Linked DNA regions of Homo sapiens. The protein of the gene in region 4 purifies or fractionates together with the protein of the main gene of each other region. This does not show direct contact. Each region holds a gene or a part of one and is shown on either strand. Other genes may lie near its edges. The genes, in order: PGAP4, SLC25A4, EI24, KCNK1, RER1, VSIG1 and SEC63.

Evidence for each region.
Region 1: the proteins of KCNK1 (region 4) and PGAP4 purify together in Homo sapiens (affinity purification with mass spectrometry; one large-scale study listed by BioGRID and IntAct). This does not show direct contact.
Region 2: the proteins of KCNK1 (region 4) and SLC25A4 purify together in Homo sapiens (affinity purification with mass spectrometry; one large-scale study listed by BioGRID and IntAct). This does not show direct contact.
Region 3: the proteins of KCNK1 (region 4) and EI24 purify together in Homo sapiens (affinity purification with mass spectrometry; one large-scale study listed by BioGRID and IntAct). This does not show direct contact.
Region 5: the proteins of KCNK1 (region 4) and RER1 purify together in Homo sapiens (affinity purification with mass spectrometry; one large-scale study listed by BioGRID and IntAct). This does not show direct contact.
Region 6: the proteins of KCNK1 (region 4) and VSIG1 purify together in Homo sapiens (co-immunoprecipitation; one large-scale study listed by IntAct). This does not show direct contact.
Region 7: the proteins of KCNK1 (region 4) and SEC63 purify together in Homo sapiens (affinity purification with mass spectrometry; one large-scale study listed by BioGRID and IntAct). This does not show direct contact.

The regions. Positions count from the first base shown.
Region 1 is NC_000009.12:101,472,670-101,474,921, reverse strand, and holds the end of PGAP4 (GPI-N-acetylgalactosamine transferase PGAP4), read left to right. Parts: 3' UTR 1-1,752; downstream 1,753-2,252. UniProt on the Homo sapiens protein: Golgi-resident glycosylphosphatidylinositol (GPI)-N-acetylgalactosamine transferase that catalyzes the N-acetyl-beta-D-galactosamine transfer from an UDP-N-acetyl-alpha-D-galactosamine to the 4-OH-position of the first mannose of the glycosylphosphatidylinositol (GPI) of a GPI-anchored protein (GPI-AP).
Region 2 is NC_000004.12:185,148,574-185,150,882, reverse strand, and holds the end of SLC25A4 (ADP/ATP translocase 1), read right to left. Parts: 3' UTR 501-2,309; downstream 1-500. UniProt on the Homo sapiens protein: ADP:ATP antiporter that mediates import of ADP into the mitochondrial matrix for ATP synthesis, and export of ATP out to fuel the cell.
Region 3 is NC_000011.10:125,575,977-125,579,476, forward strand, and holds part of EI24 (etoposide-induced protein 2.4 homolog), read left to right. Parts: intron 1-278; coding exon 279-339; intron 340-1,527; coding exon 1,528-1,594; intron 1,595-1,759; exon of another isoform or gene 1,760-1,930; intron 1,931-2,156; coding exon 2,157-2,281; intron 2,282-2,972; coding exon 2,973-3,092; intron 3,093-3,500. UniProt on the Homo sapiens protein: Acts as a negative growth regulator via p53-mediated apoptosis pathway. Regulates formation of degradative autolysosomes during autophagy.
Region 4 is NC_000001.11:233,612,773-233,616,905, forward strand, and holds the start of KCNK1 (potassium channel subfamily K member 1), read left to right. Parts: upstream 1-1,333; 5' UTR 1,334-1,399; coding exon 1,400-1,754; intron 1,755-4,133. UniProt on the Homo sapiens protein: Ion channel that contributes to passive transmembrane potassium transport and to the regulation of the resting membrane potential in brain astrocytes, but also in kidney and in other tissues.
Region 5 is NC_000001.11:2,394,841-2,398,340, forward strand, and holds part of RER1 (protein RER1), read left to right. Parts: intron 1-943; 5' UTR 944-950; coding exon 951-1,031; intron 1,032-2,275; coding exon 2,276-2,380; intron 2,381-3,500. UniProt on the Homo sapiens protein: Involved in the retrieval of endoplasmic reticulum membrane proteins from the early Golgi compartment.
Region 6 is NC_000023.11:108,062,065-108,065,564, forward strand, and holds part of VSIG1 (V-set and immunoglobulin domain-containing protein 1 isoform 2 precursor), read left to right. Parts: intron 1-2,645; coding exon of another isoform or gene 2,646-2,723; intron 2,724-3,500.
Region 7 is NC_000006.12:107,955,409-107,959,498, reverse strand, and holds the start of SEC63 (translocation protein SEC63 homolog), read left to right. Parts: upstream 1-1,290; 5' UTR 1,291-1,489; coding exon 1,490-1,613; intron 1,614-2,235; exon of another isoform or gene 2,236-3,534; intron 3,535-4,090. UniProt on the Homo sapiens protein: Mediates cotranslational and post-translational transport of certain precursor polypeptides across endoplasmic reticulum (ER). Proposed to play an auxiliary role in recognition of precursors with short and apolar signal peptides.

The DNA.
Region 1 (2,252 bases), on a different chromosome or scaffold from region 4:
CACCTTGGGCAGGTCATATAATCACTCTGGGTCTCAATTTCTTCACCTGTAAAATGAGGACAGTAATACTTACATGTTAAAGTTGCCTTGAGGATTAAATGGCAGAATATATGTAAAACACCTAGCAAGTGCTTAGTCCATAGAAGACGCTTGGCAAACTTTTCTCTCCTATAATAAACATATACAACTCAAGCTTATTTCGGAAAAAGATATTGGTGATGTTGTTTAAAGTATGAGATAGGGCATGGAGCTGCCACCTATGTACCAGCTATTCCAGATGACCAAGCCCTGCTAGAATAAAGACTGACTTTTCATTGTGACCTCTGAAGGATGTGCAGCTCAGCTTTCACCTATCCCCACGTTCACCCAAGCCAAAAAGAAGAATTGTTCATTCAAACTGGAAATGATCTCCAGCTTGGAAATGAGACTCCTCATGAGCTTATTCTAAGATCAGAGTCTGAAAATTATTTTCTCAAAAGTTACAAATAAATGTCTTTTAACAGTACTGTCAGACTAGTGACCAACAAGTTACTTTATGAGGATGGATGATGATATTAGAGTTCAAGCAATTGTCCAGTTTGTTTCGATGCCACAGTTTGCTTTTAAATTCCCATAGTGAGCTTCCATCTTGAGACCCACTCAACACAGAAGGATTACATAAAGGTTGATCACCCACGCTCTACAGATGAACAAATTGAGACCCAGAGATGCTAAACTGCTCTGCAGGTCACAAACCTGAACAGCAGCATAGCCAAAATGGGAACGGAGCTCTTCTGACTTCAAGCCCCTGCACTTTTTTCTTAACCACATTAATTTTATGAATATCTATGTGGTCAAAGTCTCTTTTGTAAAATCTGAGTATAAGCTGAACTAGATCATGTCTCTGTAAGCTAAGATGGCAGAAACACATTGTCATGTTAGTTTGGAGGAGCAAACAGATATAAGTATGTGTTGTAATGTTATAGTGAGCTGTTATGTATCCCCCAGCAATGTCCAAAGTGATCAGAGCTACTAGATGACTTATTACAATGTTCAGATCCCACTCCTTCATTCCTCCTCTCTCAGTGACCTGTCTACCCCCAAGCTTTAGAACTGAGCTCTCTCCAACTTAGAACTCATTAGAGTTTGTTGCATTAGTGATTGGATCTCCTCATGAAAGTTTTTTGACCAATGACAGTAGAGCCCCTTTAAGCTAGCCAGGCCCAAGATAGGGAAGCACTGCTGGTTTACATTTCTGCTCTTTCTAATTCAGTTGTCTATTGCATGCAGACATCCCCTGCCCGACTTCTCCATTATGGAAGGCTAAGGCCATCCTTCCTTGTCCAGTTTCTCTACCTACACACTAACATGCCTTTTCCCCATGGAGTGAACTCTGCCAGTTGTCTTTGGACATTTTCTGCAGATGCAGGCTCAGTTCTGCTCTTTTGTTCCCACCCACTTCTAGATCTTCCTCCATTTAATCCCTTATTCTTATAAGGAGTCTAATTTTTGTGTATTGTCCTTGATTAGGGCAGCTGACAGCTTTACACCAAAGCTGAAGTCTCTCACTTAATCCTAAGCAAGGGGCTAGGGAGAACTAAGATATCCTTCCCATATCAAGGGATATAGGTTACTAGAAGGGTGGAGGTCTCTTAACAGGCTCACTCACCTTTCAGAGTTTAAATTATGGTCAGGCTTAAGAAGCTCTCTCTTGTGACTGAGTGTATTGCATAGACATGTCTGTGAAAATAAAAGCACCCATTTTGCTAAGGCTTTCTGAGAAGACTTTTATCATTCTCTGTCTTTCCTTTTCATGAATGGATTTTTCTGATGTGGCAAATAGTATGGGCTCCCTGCGCCCACACACAGTTTTGTAGTCCCAAGGGAGCCATTCAGAAGTATTGGCTGCTGCCTGCACAAGCAACCATGGCCACAGATCCCTGGGTCACAGCAATGTCAGAGCATTTATCCATCTTTTTCTGGGTAAAAAAAGTGGGGGTCACTGCTACCACCCAGATCATCTTACCTCTCACTGGTATACCCCTGGTACAATGTGGTGATCATTCCTTCACTCTTTCCTGCCTCTTGCCCTAAAAGTCTTAGAATAAGTTGCAGAGCTGCCATGGGTGGTATTCCTGTCTAGTGCTCCATTGGCCACCCCAAGAACATGCAGCAACACCTGTAGGCTGAAAGAGAAAACCCAGCCTTCCCCTGAGAGAAACACGCAGAGATCCCTCACACCCATCCTCCCCCCACTCCCAACACACACACTG
Region 2 (2,309 bases), on a different chromosome or scaffold from region 4:
CTGATCATTAACACTGAGCTCATGGCCCAGGCCTGAAGACAGCTGATCTGACACATGTGTTTTCCACAAGGCATGTCTTAGCCCTCCTGTGCTGAGGAACAGCATTCTGCTTGGGGGCCATGTTAATTGGCAATGATTGTGCCTTGGATAAACTGCATTTTGGCCACTGCACAAAGCTTGAGGGCCTTTTTAAACAGCAGAATTTCTGTAGCACGAAGTAAACATGTGAACAGGATGCTTGTTTACAGGATGAGGCTGAAATGAAAAGGCGGGGTAAGTGTCACCTTGTTCCACTGCAGCTAGGGATGTGTGTCAGGCAACTTGAGTTTGTCATCATTCTGTGTGTCCAAGGACCTTAAAGTGGTTACAAATGAAGTTTGGCAGTGAAGCCAGTTTACAGATATGTAATCTGTGAATGAGATCAACTGTACTTTATTGTGGATTGATAAAATCTCTGATATTGAGGAGGAGCAGAAAAGCAAAGAATTTGTGACACGGTAGACTTTGTTAAATTTTATTTAAGGGCTTGACATTTGCATTTAAGGCAGCCGTAAGTTTTTATTCATTGCATTATACGACTCCAACAAGCCTGTCCAGCCACCCCCATGGTGCTTTGCACGTTCAAGATTTCACCCGAACTGATGAAACCCTTTCCCAAATATTTTGTAGGTTCCCTGTGCTTTTTAGATGCACTTTCCCTTCTCGCTCACTCTTCCATTCAGCAGAAACTTGCTAAACACCTTCTCTGTCCTGGGCACTGTACCAGGTGTGGAAGATAAGCTCGCCTTGCGGCGCTCGATTCTCTTGCAGCCTTGCACCTTGGGGGTGTTTAGTAAATGCCGCCTCAACACAAAGGATGCCACATATTTTACAGAATAAAATGGAACGGGAGCAGTCGCCCAGTTAATTGAGATTTCAACACAAATACTTGAGACAAGTTTTCATTGTTTTTAGTGTCCAATTATTACCATTATGGACTCACTCATCTTGCATCATCCTCCATAATTTTTCTCATACATTTAAAATACAAAATAAGGTCTTAAAAAGATGTAAAATGCCAACAGGTGAGGCTTTAGGGGAGAAAATACCTAAAGGTGATTGGGGTGGGGGTGGTGGTGGTGAAGGAGGGCTGCGCCTAGGAGAGAGCTGTGTGGGAAATGGGGCTGATGAGAAATGCCTGGGGCAGGTACCCGAGAGTCGGACGCTCAATTCCAACTTGTCACTTTTACGTAAACCAGACCTTCCAGCATGAGGCAGCTTTGCACAATGATGGTATGGCGTGCGGGTAGGTTAGTGAGGGAAGTACTGCCTGTTCTCCCGCCAGATCCCAGCACTCTCAGAGGCTGAGGGTTCTAGGAATTCATGGTGAGTTAAGTAGCTGCGGTGAGGAACTAGCTCAGCAGGGCCTGGGGCAACGTGCATTAGAGGTAACCTTCGCAGGAAGCGGAAGGGCTGACATCTGGGTCACATGCAGAGAATGTAGATAATGTGCACTATGTAATAAATGTCCATGCCTCTTCCCTCCCCATTCCATGCCAGGGTTAAAGACGGAACACAATTACACTTCTTGGTTGGGTTGGGAGGACGCACTGTTCATTCATTGTATCAGGTCTTCCTCCTCCTAAACTTGGGCCCTGCTTGGAGATACGCTCCATCAAAGCACTTGCCCACTACTAGCCTGCCCTGCTTTTATTCCCTATCAGCAATAGAGTTTGGATCACTTAGAACGAAAAGCAACAGGAGGACAATGGATCCAGGAGGCCTCTTAACTGCACATGTGCTGCCTGGCCTCGAGGAGACAGGATGGAGAGGTACCTTCTTTTTAGCCCTTTAGACTTTATTGGCCTAGATATCTACCAGGTGAGGTCAGATGTGATCCTGGATTTTATAAAACTCAGACCTTGGTAACTGTGGTAAAAGCAACACAGCCAATTTTTAGCTGGGGAGGCAGGAGTGAGTCGGTGGAAGGGCTTGGTAAGCAAGGTAAAGAACAGGAGGTACAGAGACCAACCCCCACCACCCAACCACCTGTCAGAAAACACAGAGAAGACATTTGCCTGCCTTTCAAGCTTTGCCAAGGATACAGGGACTTGCTTCCTCCAGATTAGTCACAATCCAGGAGACTATAGCAACTGCTTGGTCTTTTCCTGGTCCAAGTGTGAACTTTCCAACCTGATAGTCTAAGTATTTTCCTCTGGCTCGCAAATCTCGGAGGAGCAAATCCAAAACTGACTTCCTGTAGGTCTTGATAAATTGTTACAGAAGTACTGGAGGATGCTTTCTATACCCATGTTTCTAAATCTGGTTAT
Region 3 (3,500 bases), on a different chromosome or scaffold from region 4:
GACAGGGTTTTGCCATGTTGGCCAGGCTGGTCTCGAACTCCTGACCTCAGTTGATCGCCTACCACGGCCTCCCAAAGTGTTAGGATTACAGCCGTGAGCCACTGCGCTTGACCATTTTTTTAGTCTTTTCTCATTGACTGACATTAGAACATTGGGAGAACATGAGGCACTGAAAAATAATACAGTACCCACAAAAGATAAGATATAAAATGAACTACTGAATGACAATTAGGAAATAACTTATGCTTTATAAACTAAATACATGTGATCTTTTCCAGTGAGCCACGTATTGTTAGTAGAATTTTCCAGTGTTGTGCTTGGAATGGTGGAGTGTTCTGGGTAAGTTCTTTAAATTCCAGGTGCCTTATAAGCATCTTCAGATTGTTGCTGGGTTGATAGCTATGAACTGTTTTCTTGAAACACTGAGACAAATAGTTTTCATCTGCTGATGTACACTTAGAAATATAACTCAGGAGTCTGTGCATCTGCAGAGATTTTATTCCCACTCAGGAAAGCACACTTATATGTAAGCAAACGTCACAGCCCTGAATATACACTTGAATTTTGTTTCTAAAATGACTCATTCACAAGTATTAGAGGTAGCAGTTTCTCTTGACACTGTCTAGACATTTTAAAATGCTAACAGCAACTATGGGGACTCGGGAAGGGCAGATACGGCTAGACAAGAACAAGGTTCTCCCTGCTTCTGCTTATAGTGATCAACAAGAGTTAATTTGCATTGAAACCTATAGCAGAAAAGATTGCCTACCATTTACTGAGAATCCCAGTGCAGGCTTAACTGAAATTTGGGTACTTTGAAGAATGGATAAATATTTCCTTTGACTTAGAATTTAGAGTAATTCATCACTTCTTAATCTAAACAATTCACAGATGTTTTCAGATGTTAGTTTTAAATTTAATTAATATGTATTCCTGTGTACTTAGTACATGCCTGTATTTTGGCCTGAATACTACTTGAAATGTTCCTGTATGCCCCCAAAAGTTTCATTGTTTTATAGGCAATATCAAGTTTGTATCTCTCAATTGGAGTGTTGGGAAATAGAAATGGATCCAGTTTTGGTGCTTTTTCAGGCCTCCTGATTTATTTTATTTATTTATTTATGTATTTATTTGAGATGGAGGCTCGCTCTGTTGCTCAGGCTGGAGTGCAGTGGCATGATCTTGGCTCACTGCAACCTCTGCCTCCCGGGTTCAAGCGATTCTCCTGCCTCAGCCTTCCCAGTAGCTGGGATTACAGGCATGCACCACCACACCCGACCAATTGTTGTATTTTTAGTAGAGACGGGGTTTCACCATCTTGGCCAGGCTGGTCTCGAACTCCTGACCTCAAGTGATCTGCCTGCCTTGGCCTCTCAAAGTGAACCACCGCGCATGAGCCACCGCGCCCGGCCTAGGCCTCCTGATTTATAAAAGTCACTCCCATCTATAAAATCATTACACTAAAAATTGAAGCTCCTGTTTTAAAGACTGGATTTTGATGTTTGCCTTGTTGCTTCTTTTCTTTAGTTCAGTCTCCTCTTGTTTTATCGAGTATTTATTCCTGTGCTTCAGTCGGTAACAGCCCGAATTATCGGTAAGTGTATACCCTGCTCCTTGTCTGTTGGGGACAGAGTGGGAGATGATGTTTCAGTCTCCCTCAGTTTACTGAACATTTCCTGTGTACCAGGAGCTTTCACTGTTTATTTTCTTTTTTGTTGTTTTATTCTTTTTAAAAATTTATATTTCGTTATTCTCCTAGAGGCCCTTTAAGAATGGGTACTGTTGTTCTATCCATTTTATGAATGAGGAAATGCAAGTTACCAAGGTTAAACCATTAGTAAGAGGCAAAGCTGAGATTTAAACCCAGATGGTATCCTGCAGATAGCGTACTGGTAATCACTGTGGCATCTCGTTACCATCATGTAAGCAGGTTTGTGTCAAGCAGCACATATCTATGGTTTCTTTGAATTGGAATTGTGGCCAGAATGTGGTGCGTCTATTATGAGTTAGACTCTTTGAGATAGGTATAGTGATGTGCTGGCAAGAACTAGAAAGATCCAGGAGGAGACAGAGAATAGTCACGAGATGGGGGTTCCGCATTTGGTCTTCTGGATTTCCATTTCTCCATTTCTAGTAACTCGTTTCCTCTTTCTTAGGTGACCCATCACTACATGGAGATGTTTGGTCGTGGCTGGAATTCTTCCTCACGTCAATTTTCAGTGCTCTTTGGGTGCTCCCCTTGTTTGTGCTTAGCAAAGTGGTGAATGCCATTTGGTTTCAGGTAGGTCCAGGGCAGAATGGAGTCTGGGTCCCGCAGCATGATTGGCTGACAGGTGACAAGTTTCAGCCTGTGAAGTTAGTGGGCATGTAGGGGGACCTGTTTTTCAGCCTTAATGTTTCTTGGCCAGGTAGCCAGTAGCTGATCTTTGTGTTCTTACAGAATGGAATTATTGTCTCAGCATCTCATTGGCAGGTGTCTGGTGCCTTTTCTTTTTCGTTTTGGCTTTTTTTTTTTTTTTTTTTTTTTTGAGACAGTCTCACTCTGTCGCCCAGGCTGGAGTGCACTGCAACCTTTGCCTCCCGGGTTCAAGCAATTCTCCTGCTTCAGCCTTCCAAGTAGCTGGGACTACAGGCACGTGCCACCATGCCTGGCTAATTTTTTTTGTATTTTTATTAGTGACAGGGTTTCACCATGTTGGCCAGGCTGGTCTCAAACTCCTGACCTGCTGATCTGCCTGCCTCGGCCTCCCAAAGTGCTGGGATTATAGGCGTGAGCCACGGCATAAGGCAGCAATCCTCCTACCTTAGCCTCCTGAGTAGCTGGGACTATAGGCACATGCCATCGTGCCCAGCTTATTTTTAAATAAGCCTTTTCTTAACTGGCAGCTCTAGTGGCGGACTAGTGGCCTTAGCTTTGGGGATGTATATCAAGGCCATTTAATTCATGTTTTGGTACACTTTCTCTGTTACAGGATATAGCTGACCTGGCATTTGAGGTATCAGGGAGGAAGCCTCACCCATTCCCTAGTGTCAGCAAAATAATTGCTGACATGCTCTTCAACCTTTTGCTGCAGGCTCTTTTCCTCATTCAGGTGAGACTGACCTTCTGGGCATATGGGCAGCTTTATTAAAAAGAAAAACTGTTTCACTAGAGAGAACTTCACAAAGACAGAGTATTATATTTATACAGAGTATTATATATATGCTGGTGGGAGGTAATGATTTTTAAATCTTTTTTTCCCCACGGAAATGAGAATTTTAAAATTACATTATAAAATTATAAGAAACATGAATTTACCTGCTTTTTTCTGCTACTCTGGTTATTCTCCAGTCCTGCCAGGTGGAAACTTTTTTTCTTTTTATAGTTATGCCTAATTTTTTTTTTTTTTTAAAGAGACAGACGGGTCGGCTGGGCGCAGTAGTTCATGCCTGTGATCCCAGCACTTTGGGAGGCCGAGGTGGGCGGATCACCTAAGGTCAGGCATTTGAGACCAGCCTGG
Region 4 (4,133 bases):
GCAGATGTCATTTTATTTTGTAACAAAATACAAATATTTTACATATTTGAGATTCTACACAGTTTTGCTTCAATAGTCTTTAGACACAACTTTAATGTGTTTAATGTCTATATGGTGTCCATGCTGTAGAGATGCCATAACTTATTTAACCATTCTCTATTTTGGAATATTTAGATTGTTCTGAGTCTTCATTATTTCATCTATACCGTGTGTGTGTGTGTGTGTGTGTGTGTGTCCCACATGTGTATGCACTATATTATACAACTACATGTATGTATATATAGATACCGTCTATGACCAGTCTTTGTAAGTAAGTGCCTCTCTGATTGTTTTTTCTTAGGACATATCACTGAATCAGAACAAATAAACCCTTTCAAGGTTCTTGAGACGTGTCGCTAAATTGCCTTTCCAGAAAGGGTGTACCAATTTTTATTTTCATCCACAAGCAGGCGGCTCGCTGACCCTCGCCCACATTTTTGTCACTTTAAAAAGAAGTGACAGTTGGGAAAGCTCAGTTTCTTCTGGCAGTTGACACATTTGGGATGTTTTTTCACCAAAAAACCTAAGGTCATGTTTTAGAAAATTCGAACTCAGAAATAGGACTTCTCTGAGACTCTCCTTTTCCCTCAAGTCCTTTTTGTGAGGGGGATGGGTGGGAGAGAGGAGACTGATTCAAGGAGCCTTCCAACTCTGATGTTCTGGTATTTTCACCGTCATTACTGGCACCAGATTGCTCAATCCTTCGACCAATAAGACAAAGAAGGAAAGTACTTCAGCGCTTGCTGTTTTGTAATACTGGCTTTGATTGGGAGAAAATAAGTGGGAAACAAGAGTAGCTTGGACAGGGGGCTTGGACGGCCAGCGCATTGACCAGAAGCGGCCCACACTACACGCGCGCGAACACACACACACACACACGCACACGCCGCGCGCGGTCAGCTAGAGTTTGGCTACTGGACCCAGGAAGGGAGGGAGCGGGAGGAGCTGGTGGCTGTCGGGTCGGGGTCTGGGCGCCACCGAGCGCCCGCCCCACCTCTGGAGTGCGCAGAAGGCGGTGCGTCCCGGGCCCCGGCAGCCCAGCCCAGGCGCTCTGGCCAAGTTTGCGCGCGGTCTCCGCTGACTCTCGGGTTACCTGAGCCGGCAACCACGTCAGCGCCACATCATCTGGGCTTTTTATATTGCAAGGAAACAGGAAAAGAAGGAAGAAAAACATCGCCCGAGAGAGCCAATCGCAGGAAGACGGCGCTGCCCGGAGGAGCGGGGCGGGCGGGCGCGCGGGGGAGCGGGCGGCGGGCGGGAGCCAGGCCCGGGCGGGGGCGGGGGCGGCGGGGCCAGAAGAGGCGGCGGGCCGCGCTCCGGCCGGTCTGCGGCGTTGGCCTTGGCGGCGGCGGTGGAGAAGATGCTGCAGTCCCTGGCCGGCAGCTCGTGCGTGCGCCTGGTGGAGCGGCACCGCTCGGCCTGGTGCTTCGGCTTCCTGGTGCTGGGCTACTTGCTCTACCTGGTCTTCGGCGCAGTGGTCTTCTCCTCGGTGGAGCTGCCCTATGAGGACCTGCTGCGCCAGGAGCTGCGCAAGCTGAAGCGACGCTTCTTGGAGGAGCACGAGTGCCTGTCTGAGCAGCAGCTGGAGCAGTTCCTGGGCCGGGTGCTGGAGGCCAGCAACTACGGCGTGTCGGTGCTCAGCAACGCCTCGGGCAACTGGAACTGGGACTTCACCTCCGCGCTCTTCTTCGCCAGCACCGTGCTCTCCACCACAGGTAGGGTATCCTGCGCGCCCCCTGGCCGCCCCGGCCACCTCGCCCACAACCCACACACCCCGGCCCCGGCGCCCCGGGCCCCTCTAACCCTCCCACCCCACCCCCCACCTTTCGCCATCCCGGCTCCTCCAGCCCGCCTCCCCTCACTGTCCTCCCGACCCTCCGACCTTCCCCTTACTGGCGTCCCCGGCCTCTGCCTGGGTGACTCGGGAGGGCAAGCCCTGCGGAGCCGGAAGCCAGAGAGGTGACTCCAGACGTGACTTGGTTGTTGCCGTCCGTAACTCTGGGGAAGTGGTCCCTAACTTCGGCCTGGGTGGCTGCAGGTGCTTCCTCCCCTTGAGTTCTTTTTTCGCAACCCACTAAGCCAAACTGTCGGGTTTGAATGTGTAGCAGCACCTGGCCGCCGTGCGGCAAGGCAGCGGGATGATGGAAACTCACCACCTTCCTCCCGCACCCATCCCAGAGGCCGAGGCTGCAGTCTGGTAATAATACCTTCTAAAGGGTCACCTTCCGGAGTGTGCCGTCCCTTTGGACCATGCACAGATATTCCAGCTCTTTTGTACCTTGGAGGCAGTTTTGGGGGTAGCCGAGTGACATCACTCTGCTCTTCCCAGGTGACCTCTGGGCGGACAGGCCGATCCGGTTTCTTTTCAGAGTAGGAGGAAGGGTGAGGGAGAGTAAAGGAACCATAGGATTGCCTAAGATCTGACTTAATTGGGGCACCCTGATTCAGCAGTTCCTTCAACTTGAGGTGTGCGAGGCTCCCCATAAACTTCGAAGCGCCACGTCCCCGTACGACTCACCCGCGGGGCGCCCGGCCATGGAGGAGCCTCCTCAGGTGAAAGATGAGGCCGGGCGCATGCCCCAGGGCTCGGTCACTGTGCCAGATCAGATGAATGAAGGCCGAATTTCCCCAGCCGGACCTAGTAAGGCACATACCCAGAGTGGAGATATCAATTGGTATTTGGACAGTGGGAGGAATCTGAAAGAGCGTTCAGCACAGTCCCTTCTTTTGATCTATGAGATCCAATCTTTGAAATAATCCATCTCGTCATGCACAAGGTCACACACTTCCTAGTTACCAGTGTCGTCCTGGAACCTGGGCCTTGTGATTTCTCTGCCAGGACCACTTTGTAACCCCCCACCCTCAACCTTTACAGGTGAATCACATCCCTTTGTGTGACTCCCAACTCTTCCTTCCTCCCCACCCCCCTCCACCACCCAAATTATTGTGTATAATTCCCTTTGGGCTATATCTTGTTGACTATCTTGGTAATTACTTGGTAATGAGTAATAATACACTATTCATGTAGATCACATGAAACAATTATTCAGAGGTCTGGGGTGAATTACTAAACTGATGTAAATCTACCCTGAAATAAACAGAAGTGGAATTCTAGCTTGTATTGTGAGATCTAAAAAACTGTTAAATGTAGCGCTAGACAAGACAGACCTGTTATCTCACTTTCCAAAGAATGCCTGTTCCCTTGCCAATACAATTTAATTTTTCTTTCCATAACTCTGCCTCCATTGTCTTTACCTAGTCCTCTGTTCCTCAGATCATTTAGGAGTCACCATGCCTTTCCTTTGGAGTATATTTGTGCTATATTGAGAGTCATTCATTCTTCCCAGAAGTAAGTGTTTCCATGGGGCTACAGAAAGTTTACAACTGGGTCACAATGTTGGGTAAACATTTCGAAGGATGCTTATAGCGTGTGGTGTTTTCTTACTAATGATATTGTGAGGATAGAACAAGAATAAGAACAGTTTTGAGGAAAAAGGTTTGCTTTTATCTGGGTGGGATTTTTCGTGACTCATGTATAGTCTTAACATCATATTGTCTAATTAAATGTTAAAAATTAGTTTATAATCTTGAATAGATGAAATATTCTTCCCAGAGGAGAATTAGAAAAAGGGATAGTTTCTGTTTAAGAAAGGGGTGGGGTGGGAATAGACGTCTTATTATTGGTATTCAGATTGCTTTGTAGTTCCTAAGAAAGTCTGTATTCATGCAAAACAAGTGTTCATTTAAGAAATCAGTGCAAGGGGCACTTAAGGATAAACTAAATGAAAAAGGTGCCTCTTGGTTTGTAAAGTTAGCACATCAATGAATTCTTGTTATATGAATACAACTATTCTAAATGAAAAGTACTCTTCTGTTGGCTTTGTACTGCCCCATTATTTGACACATTTGATATTTCTTAAGGTTTCAAAATTATAATTACCCATTATTTGATTCATTTGATGTTTTTTAAAGTCTTCAAATTATCATAGGTGCCCTGGCCATGAATCTTATAATGGGTGAGAAATCTTTTCTTCCCTACAAGGGGAAATAAAGAGATGTTAAATTGTGTGCTGGAAACAAACAATATTTTAAAT
Region 5 (3,500 bases), about 230 Mb from region 4:
GCTCAGGGGCCAGGAGGCCTCTCATCTTTAAAGTAGGAATGACAACCGGCAGGCCCTGGGTACTGAGCTGTGCTTTACCGAAGAGCGGCAGGTCCTGACGCCGTCTCCTCTCAGGAGTGGGGTGGCGGCGTGCTCAGCTGAGGAGCCAGGTGGCAGTCAGGCTTGGCTTGGCCTGCCCAGAAGCAGGGCTGTGGCAGGACCTTGGACACGTGGCTTCCACTGTTTGAGACTTGGTGAAATGGGGGTCATGATGCCCTTCACTTGAGCATCTGGGAATTAAGTGGGTGAACAATGTGACCTCTGGCACCTGGGTTCTCAGGTGAATTCCTCATGGCATCACAGCAGTGTTGAAATAGGAGCAGATACGTTACCTCCGCTTGCCAGATAAGAAACTGGGACGCAGATGGATGGACTACCTGAGAGTTGTAGATAACATTTTCCTGTTCATGGGGTGGAGGACCTGGCCCTGAGAGGACAGGATCCCTCCTGCTCCTGCCAGACCAGAGACCCAGGACAGGGCGTGGAGCAGACAAGGTGCCTGGGCGGGGGAACCCTGAGGGATCCACAGAGGGTGCGGTCCTTGGAGGGAGGACATGCAGTGCCACGTGCCATGGACCAGCCAGTGGACCCCATGGCCAGCAAGGCTGCTCCTGGGGCCAGTGGGGTGGACAGTCCCGCCCACGCAGGTGACTGAGGTGCCAGTGTGGGAATGAAAATGCGGCCTGTGCTCCTGGGCCCATGCGTCTCACGCTGCCCTTCCTCTCCAGGGAAGCCTGTGTACCTGCTACTTTTTCCCGAACAATTCATGGTAAAAACACAAATGGTATATGGACAAAATACTGAATGTGGAAGAAACCTACTTGACAGTGTTGGTGAAAATAGGGCCAGGATTTCACACCCGTGAATGCTTTTTACTGAAAAGTATTTTGTGTTTTTCTCCCAGTTACAGAATGTCTGAAGGGGACAGTGTGGGAGAATCCGTCCATGGGAAACCTTCGGTGGTGTACAGATTTTTCACAAGACTTGGACAGGTTGGTGGGTTTTTTAGTAGATGAGTATAAATATTTGAAAAAGAAACGGGACTCCCAGCATTTTCGGGAAGGATCTGTTTGCTGGTGTTCCTGATGGAGAAGTTACTTCGCCTCAGGCTCAAACTTCCTGAAGACAGCGTTCTCTTCACTGTGAAGGGCCAGCTGTGGAGAGATCGGGCTCTGGGGCCACACGTGGTCTATCAAACATATGCGTTTTCTGTTTCTGTTTTCCTTTTACCAAGCTTTAAAAATATAAAACCCAGTCTCAGCTCCCAGGCAGGACAGATGCGGCCGTGGCTGCCGTTCTGCTCTTGCTGTCCCTCTCCCAGCCACCCACGTCCCCGGTGCTGGTAGCCCCACCTGCCCCGTGTCAGCTCGGCGGTTCTGTCCTTGAGGGTGAGAGGCTCTTGTGTGGGCTGCGTGTGCATTGCTTGGTGAGTGAGGGACCTAGAGCTGCCTTTGAACGCTGGAGTCCGAACCTCTGTCAGGAAAAGCTTGGGTCACCGGCAGTTCCAGGTGCTGAGGATCCGGCTCAAATAAAAATTCATCACCTTAATTAAATCACATATGAAAAGCGATTGGCGATTAATGAAGTTGGGTGACAGGCATATGTAAGCTTCTATAATCTTTTTACTTTTGTGAATTTGGAAATTTCTCACAATTTGAAAATTAAATTTCTAAATTAAAATAAAAAACCATACATATGTATATTTGTAAAAATAAATACATAAAACTAAGGGCTCCTTCGGTCATGTCCACAGCCGCCTGGACGCACACACATGTGGGTGTGGCTGCTGGGGCTCAGGCTGTGGCCAGTGGGCCTGGGAGCGGGGCAAGGCTGGCTGCTGGCTGCTGCAGATGGGGGAGCTGACTTGAGATGTGACGATAAGGGCTGTGCTGTAGGGTGGGGACTTTGAGATGCACAGTCCTCTCTTTGGGGTGAGGCTGGGTCTTCCCCATAGTGATCCCTTGGGGCCAGCACAATGTCACAGTCTCCTAGGAGATTGTTTTGTAATAGTCTTGCTTAAGAGATGAACCTGCTTCAGGAATTATTGAAAATAAACTTTGGATTAATTGTAGTCACTTCTTTGTGCTGATACATAGATGATCTCTTGCTATTTTAACTCACTCTTTTAGCTGTTTTAAAAATTGAAAGCCAACCCTAGCAGAAGGTACATTTTGTGGCAGGGTCAGTACAGAAGTTACAGGACCTGCTTCATGCTTTTGGACTCTTGTCTTTCTAGATTTATCAGTCCTGGCTAGACAAGTCCACACCCTACACGGCTGTGCGATGGGTCGTGACACTGGGCCTGAGCTTTGTCTACATGATTCGAGTTTACCTGCTGCAGGTAGGTGTGGGCTGAAGTGACGAGACTTGGCTCTGTCCACGTTACCTGGGCGTGATGTTTGTGGGGATGTTGTTGATCCAGTCTGTCTTGCAGGAAGTGGTCTCTAGTAATCAATTTTCAGCTAAACGCCAAATGTCAGAAAGATCTCAGTGACTGTCTTTAACGAACAGGGTTGTTTATGATTCACCCGGAGTCGCCTCGCCAGGCTTCTCAGTATACCCAGGCCGTCCTGAGCCCAGCCTGGCCCTGCCCTGGGCACGTCCAGGCCTGGACAGTGGAGCCGCTGGTGTCCCTCCGACCCTGCTGCATGATGCTCAGGACAAGGTTGCGCTCTGTGGCTGCCTCATTCCTTGGGTGAAGAGTCCATGCCTTGGGTGTCATGAATGACTCGGCGTCCAAAGGGTTTATGTAGCTTTTCCTGAGCTCTCCCTTGTGTGAGGCCAAAGCACAGTGCAGGTTGAGACGCCGAGTCAAGTAAGAGAGACAGTGACCGAAGGGGGTCTTGAGGGTTTCCTTCGTGTGTTTTCGGGCACCCCTAGGTCAGGTGATGTCGTCTCAGACTTCACCTGGGTGCTCCTTTACTTGCTGGTAAACACGGGGTTTCTAGGAGCAAACCTGTAAGATGGGAATTCTTCGTCGGTCTTTAGAGGAGGTTACATAATCTTATGTGCAGAGCAGGGCATGTTGAAAGCCTTGTCTGGGCTATTTTCTCCTCTGGGGACTGTAGAAGATACTTCCTTGTTTAAAGCACACACCTTAATTTATTTATTTATTTTTGTTTTTAAATTGGAACTGGGTCCATTCTCTGATGGAAAGAATGACCTAGAAATCTTGAATCAGGGACTTCAGGCAGGAGCAGGGGGCGGGAAGAGTGCAGCACCCACAGGTCAGTTTTATTGCGTTCGAAACCAAGCTCGTGCCTCATTTGGCGTCTCTTCAGGTGTGGCCCTGCAGCCGAGGATGGACACACAGACATCAGTTAGCCCTCACATCCGGCGTTCAGCCGAGGATGGACACACAGACATCAGTTAGCCCTCACATCCGGCGTTCAGCCAGGGATGGACACACAGACATCAGTTAGCCCTCACATCTGGCGTTCAGCCGTCTGACTGGAAAAGCT
Region 6 (3,500 bases), on a different chromosome or scaffold from region 4:
GGCAGGCTAACATGGAAATTTGGGGTGGTCTGGTGCCTTTCTGGTCACACAGATGGCTTCATCTTCCATCCAGTCTGTTAATGCTAACACTACAGAGACCCCACCTGTCCCTGAACAGACCATGCCTTGACTCTGCTTAGCATGAATCTCTCAGACAATACTTATTCTTCAAGAATGTTCATAGTGAAAAAATACCCTTTGCCAGTCTCATAAACAACTTAGACAACTTCTTTCCCAGGACCTAGTGTTCTTATGTTCTCTGGCTTCTCAGGTTTTACAACCTGAAATACACAGGACAGAGCCACACAATAAAGAGTTGTCTGCCCAAAATGCCAGTGTCACCCCTACTGAGAAATACTGCAAGTTCTTCCCCACCCCACCATCAAATTTATGTATTGTGTCCCATTCACTTTCTGCTAAATCTGATAAATTAATCTCATGGTAAGGTGTTAGGGACTAGCGAAAGCTTATTTTATTCTCTTCTAAAGAATGCATTGAATGGGACCTTCCATGCCTTCTTCCAAAAGGAGCAACTCAAATGGCAGATACCCAGGCAAATGGAGGGTTGGTAAGAGAGTTGGTTTGGAAGCAAGAGAGTCTTTCTTTTGGTATCCCATTCCTTCCACATGCCATCCCTGCACCACAATACAGTCCAAATAAAATTCTGAGCTTGTGACCATTGCCACCTTATACCTGCACACCCCTTCCCTATCCTATGGCTAGCCCCTCTATCAGCAGTACAAGAAAGCAAGAAGCTGGAAAGGAAAGAATGGGTGGTTTGCTGTGGATGTCCATGTCCTCCACCTTCCCAGAAGGAATCTGCAAAAGCAGCTCTGGAAGCTAACTCCAACTCAGATTCAAACAGAAAGCAGACTGAATTCTTTCAACCCTTCTTGTTTATACTCCATGCTTCTAGTTAGAGAGCAGTGTCACTAAGCTGAGGAAAAAGTCTTTTAGGACAAATCTGGTTCCCAGCTGCACGGCCTTGTGTGAATAGGAACTTGGCACAGTAGGAAGGGAAAGGTTGCTCTGCAAAGAACTGAGGGGCCTACAATTGCAGCTGGCAAATATTGAGGGCATCATGTGGTGAACATACTCAGCATGGGAAGCATCATGCCAATAAATAGCAACAATTGGCAGGAGAAAGGTTGGGCTGGAGCAGGGAATGGAATGGTCCCAAAAGGAGAAGGTTGCCCAGGAATCATCTTTCTCATCTTAAGAAGCACTGTGAGTGCCATCTTAATATATTCAGTGGGAATCAGAAGGTCTGAATTCCAGGTCTGACTGTAAATTGTGTGACCTTGGGAAAATGGCTCCCTCTATTGAGGCCTCGGTGTCCTTTTTTTGTATTAGAAAAGGATGAATTCGAGTTTACTAACCGCAGGCCTCTGGGTCAGATTTGGCCAGTGGATGTATTTCAGTCGGCCTGCCCAGTATTTTGTTTGTTTGTTTCAACAGTTCGAATGCCTTGTTTGCGTTGACTTTTCCGTTCCCTGCAGTCCCCATATCTGTTATGAGCTTACCACTACTTACCAGCCCCTCCCAGCCATTTCCCATATTTCCAATATCCATCGGGCTCCTGAAGGCCCCTTAACCTTAGAAACCACAAACCAAACTATCTCACAGAGGTCTTATAATTAATGTGCAATTATGACTCCACCCATCAGCCTCTAGCGTCACCCTGGGGGCAGGCAGAGAGGACCTTGGGAGAAAGCAGGGCAGTCTACCATGAACCCAAGCACAAAGTGCAGGTGGGTAAAAAATTAACAAGCGCCCCTTAAGGGAACACTGGGATGGATTTCCTTAAAAAAATCACCTCCTCCCCACCTCCACCCAAAGATGTGGCCCATTGTACATCCGGGGCTTTTTCTGGATCTCCATTGCTTTGACGTCTAAATTGATAATATTCTTTCTTTGAAAAGTGTACAAGCCACACAGGATCATGGGCCAGGCTTTGGCCACTGTTCAGCTTTGATTTTTAAAAGAGTTATTCTTTTATGGAAAGTGGAATCAAGTTGTAGCCCTTCCTATATGATTAGATAAGCAGTTTCAGGAAAACACTTCTTTCTTTTTTTCTTTACAAGGACAGTGTGACTGTGTGGACTTCCCCTTAACAGAAAGCCCCTCCATGTATGTGTCTGGCTGCTGCTGTCTACCCCTAGGTACTTTACTTCTTACAGAGAACTGTGAAGCCAAAGCCTTGGCTCTTTTAGGTCTCCATTGTTAGCCCTCACTACCCCCATTTCTGTCTCTAATACCTTTTAGTGTCAATCGTGAGAGGGCAAAATGTATTAGACTACAGCATGAGGAGCTAGCATGTAAGAGGTAGTAAAGGTCTTTTTCATGGGTAAGGTTCCAGGGCCTCATTGCTTATATACTCATTTCACCTTGACTCATGCCCAACTATGGGACTTTTACAGTGGGCATGGACACATGGATACAGTGGACACTTTTACTTCTTCTCATATCCTAATTCTGGCCTAAAACACACCATTTTGGCCTCAAGATCTCTGCAGAAATAAGGTCCTTTTCACCTGGATCCTCTGGGACTTGCTGTGGGCCTCAGGCGTGACTGATGTTGTATCTCATTGTGATGTCATCAAGCATCAGTATAAAACAGGGCTGATGTTTTACACTGTCCACAGTCTCCTTGGGAGGAGGGGAAGTGGCCAGATGTTGAGGCTGTGAAGGGCACTCTTGATGGACAGCAGGCTGAACTCCAGGTAAGAAACAACAAGACCTCAAACTGTCAATTAGAAAGTAAATAAGCCCCATGCTGCCTAGTGAAATTGAAAGCCTGATAGCGTGGGTGCCAACTCAAATGAAAGTAATCCTCTGATGTATTGAACCTCCTTCTGTCCCACTTGAATACCTGGAGTTAATCCTGGCTTTCTGGTTTGGAAGTCAAACAAGACCATTCTGGGGCAAGAGTTTGTGATTTCAGTAGGTGTGAATGAATGAATTATAAATGGCTGCATTTATAATGCAAGCAAGAAAACACGTTGATGTTAGAAAAAACGGGAGAGAAACAAATAGTTTTCTCTGTAAATGTACTCTTTTCCTGGGATTTTTCCCTCAAAATCCAGCTTTCTGCCTTAGTTTTAAAATATATTGACTTTCTGCTTAAAGGAGAATACATTTGAATTCATCTAGACAATATCTTTTGGTTTTCTAATTGCTTTCCCTCTTTTATTGGCCTGTTAAGGTAAAGCCCACAGTACAAGGAATTAGGAAAATTGGATTCCAGATCTGTCTCAACCGTCAATTTTGCCTTTTATTTTTTAACCTCTCTGGGCTTTGGTTTCTTCTGTAAACTGAGGGAAGTGAATTAAATGAACTGTAAGGCCTTCCAGTAGATTTTATGAAAAATTAGTCTCACCAGACTAAGACAATACAGTTTATTGAACAATAACAATCACTTGAATAATATACATTTACATGAAACCAACAAAACATGTACATAGAAGGTGTGTATTATGAAGGGACCTCAGGAATTACCT
Region 7 (4,090 bases), on a different chromosome or scaffold from region 4:
ATGCCAGTCACTGTCAGGAAATTTTAAGGTCCTGGGCGATGGAGGGTCAAGGGCACACTGGCTTTGTGGCATCAAAATGATATGGGTTTGAATCCTCAGACATTCTTTTACTGTGAGGGACCTTGGGCAGTCTCTCTGGGCCTCAATTTTCTCATTTGTAGAGCAGACATACTTTGCTTTATTCCATGGGGTTTACTGATGACTAAATGACACAAAACAATAAAGGTCTCAGCCTACCGCCTGAAGCTGGTGGTTATAATTAGCAGCTCTGGAATGGGTAGGGAACCATCTGTAACGGCTTGGGGAAATCTTCATCTGCAAGATGGGCACAGCGTAGATTCAAATCTGTCGCCCAGTGGAGAGCGATCCGGTCTCACTGCAACCTCCGCCTCCCGGGTTCAAGCGATTCTCCTGCCTCAGCCTCCTGAGTAGCTGGGATTACAGGCGCGTGCCACCACAGCCGGCTAGTTTTTGTATTTTTAGTAGAGACGCGGTTTCACCATGTTGGTTAGGCTGGTCTGGAACTCCTGACCTCATGATCCACCCGGTCTCCCAAAGTACTGGGATTACAGGCATGAGCCACTGCGCCCGGCCAGATAGTAAACATTGCTTTGAAAACACAACTGCAACCCACACCTCCCGCAACCCACACCTCCCCATCCCCCAATTTTTTTTTTTTTTGAGATGGAGGCGCGCGCCACCACGTCCGGCTAATTTTTGTATTTTTAGTAGAGAGTGGGTTTCACCATGTTGGTCAGGCTGGTCTCGAACTCCTGATCTCATGATCCGTCCGCCTCGGCCTCTCAAAGTGCTGGGATTACAGGCGTGAGCCACTGTGCCCGGCCTCCCACCCCCTATTCTAAATGACACTTGTTTCCAAAATATGGGGGCTGGAGGAGCAGATCCAGAACCCAAGGAAACGTGATCAACCAGGGCAATTAATCCAGAGGGCAGGACAGGCTGAGCCTCAGCTCTTCTCTGAATATCTGGGACCCCTGCGCAGCCAGGTGAACCGCCCGCGACCGCTGCTCCGGCGGGAAGCCTTCTCTGGGATCCTGTACGCCGACGCCCGGAATCCGGCGTGGTGCGCTGGGAAACTGAGCGGTGGAGGAAGGCGGAGCGGTTAGGGGCGGGACCCTAGGGGAGGGGTTGGGGGAGGGCTTTGACGTTAGGGCGGGGCTAAGGGCGAGACCTCGCCGAGTTCCACCGTTGCGCTCGCCACGTCTCCCTTAGCGAGCTCGCTGGGGACACGCAGGGGGAGGGAAAACTGAGCGGGGCGGGAACTATCTCCTCTCGCGAGAGCTGGCGACGGCGGCGGCAGCGGCAGAGGTGGCGGCGGCGTGTCCGTGAGAGTGGCGTGGGGGCGGGGAGGAGAGGCGGCGGCGGCAGTGTCCAAGCTACGCCACTCGGGCCGGGGCGTTGGGAGCGGGAGTGCAGAGCGTGGTCGTGGCGGCGGCGGTGAGAAGAGCGAGGCGGAGGAGGGGGTGCCATGGCCGGGCAGCAGTTCCAGTACGATGACAGTGGGAACACCTTCTTCTACTTCCTCACCTCCTTCGTGGGGCTCATCGTGATCCCGGCGACATACTACCTCTGGCCCCGAGATCAGAATGCCGGTGAGTCCCGCCGGCCTTTGCCCGCGAACCCGCGCAGGCCCCGCCAGCGCCCCCAGGCCCTGCGGCGCCCGCTTGCCCGGCCCCAGCCCGCGGCGTCCGGGATGACAGGGACGGTGCGGCCCGGCCTGTGTCCAGCGTCCGCCACTGGCGGGGCCCGGGTCAGCAGCGTTTCCCTCGGCGCTTCTCCACCTCCCTTCATTGTCCTCAGGAGTTTCGCTCGCTCCATCTTCTCCATTGTTGTGGACGCTCCTTGCAGCCTCCTCCTGCCTCTTTGTCTTCTCTGCCTTTGCTTTTATTGGGGATTTTTCTTTATGGAGGAAGCGGGATGGGGACTTGGGAGGTGAGCAAAGAGTTGGCCAAGAAGAGACTGAACGTGCGGGCACAACTCTCAGTCCGTCCAGTTCGCGGCCCTCATCCCCCGACTCCGGTTTCCCTGTTGCAGCTGCTCTTAACAGATGTTTTAGGGCATCTCTGAGCCGGGTGGCATGCTTAGGACTCCAATTGAGCTTTCCACCGCCTACCCCCGTCACTTCCTCCCGTTGCTTTTTCATTTGTTCACTCACTGTGGGGGTTGGAAGCAATGCCGTTATTCCTCTTAGCAAAAATAGGCTTTTTTCTATTTCCTTTTCTTCGGAGTTTCCTGTTTGTGACGGAAAAAGTGCAAGTATGAAGGATTAAGTCTCGTTTAATTAATCTTGTAGGGAATTTTGAGGTAGTGGGTCGATTTACTTTTGGTTCTAAGTCTTTTCACATTAAACAACATCGAATTAAAGCACAGAATAACAGATTCTTTTCATATTTCACTTGATGTTTGGGTAATGTTTGCATCCATTTGTTGCACTCTACTAGGACATATGGCAGATGGTATTCTTAAAGCTGATGTAACTGCGAGGGCCTAATGGGTTATTTATGGTAGTGTTAACAGTAAGGAGTGGGTTTTGAGTATTAACAACTTAGGGAAAGCTTTCTATTGCACAAGAGCTGTGCTAACTTGCTTAAATATCTTCTCTTCAATTGGGTGTGCTGGAGGTCTAGGTTGTCCAGGTTATATACTCTACTTGGAGAAGTTGTTAACAGTGAAGCCTTGAATCAGCTCAGAACTTGTTATACTTTCAGATGGATTCAGTGTCCTGTAACATTCTTTTTCCCCCCCGCCCCATGTGATCTGCAGGAAACTAACATTCTTGACTTGGAATAGAACTAAAATAAATTTAGGATAAATAGTAACAAAGGATTGCATCATTTTGTACGTTTGACAATAAGTTTAAAAATCCATTAGATGCAAAAATCTGTCCAAAGTTACTAGTCTTAATACTTTTTTTACTCAATGGGTAGTTTATGAAATTTGGATCTTGGACTGTTGTGCCTTATTTCCTAAGTGCATTTAAATTGTGTAGGTTCTTCCTCGATGTTGAAAAAGGAAAAAAAATTGGGTAGGTTCTTTGGGCAGTGATTGTGTATAAGTGAAGTCTTAATGCTGTAATGGCTTTTCTTATCTGCAAACCTAGGCCATTCTTGTGGTTGTTGTATTTCAAGTTAAAAGGGTACACTTTTCAGTAGTTTATTTTCACCTAACAGCCATTATGTGTGCAATTGGTAGTGTAGAAAACAAAAAGGTATTGGGAGAGTAGTCGGTGGGTTTGGCCAGAATGTGTTTTGATCAGGCAGAACAAAGGTATAAAAAAAAGTGTTTTGAGAAACTGCCCTGATTTCAGAAATTAGCCATCATTTTTTAATCTACATTGGATTTTTAAAGTTGTTCTTTTTTTCTTTTTAAAGCGGGGAGAGTCTCATTTACCCAGGCTGGTCTTGAACTTGCTTCAAGTCATCCTCCCGCTTCAGCCCCCCGAGTAGCTGGCCTTACAGACTTGAGCCACTGTGTCAGGATGGATTTTTGAAATTTGAAAGTCATATTTTCATGGTGAGTTTCGTATTATAAAATTCACCTGATTTCATAGAAGAATCATACTATTTATTTATTTATTTATTTATTTATTTATTTAGAGACAGAGTCTCACTCTGTTGCCCAGGATGGAGTGCAGTGGCTTGATCTTGACTCATTGCAGCCTCCACCTGCTGGGTTCAAGCAGTTCTGCCACAGCTTCCCCAGTAGCTGGGATTACAGGCGTGCACCACCAGGCTTGGCTTATTTTCGTGTTTTTAGTAAAGATGGGGTTTCACCATGTTGACCAGGCTGGTCTCCAACTCCTGACACCAAGTGATCTGCCCTCCTCGGGCTCCCAAAGTGCTGGGACTACAGGCATGAGCCACCACGCCCTGCCAACAAGTCATACTTGACCCCCTTCAGCATGTAAGTGTCTTTGAAAAAGTGGTGGTAGTTTAGGTGGAGGGAATTAATACTATTTGTAAATCATGGACTTCAACTTTTACTTTATTTAATCTTCTTAAAAATGCAGTGAGGTTGGCCGGGCATGGTGGCTCACGCCTGCCGTGGCTCACTTTGGGAGGCCCAGGCG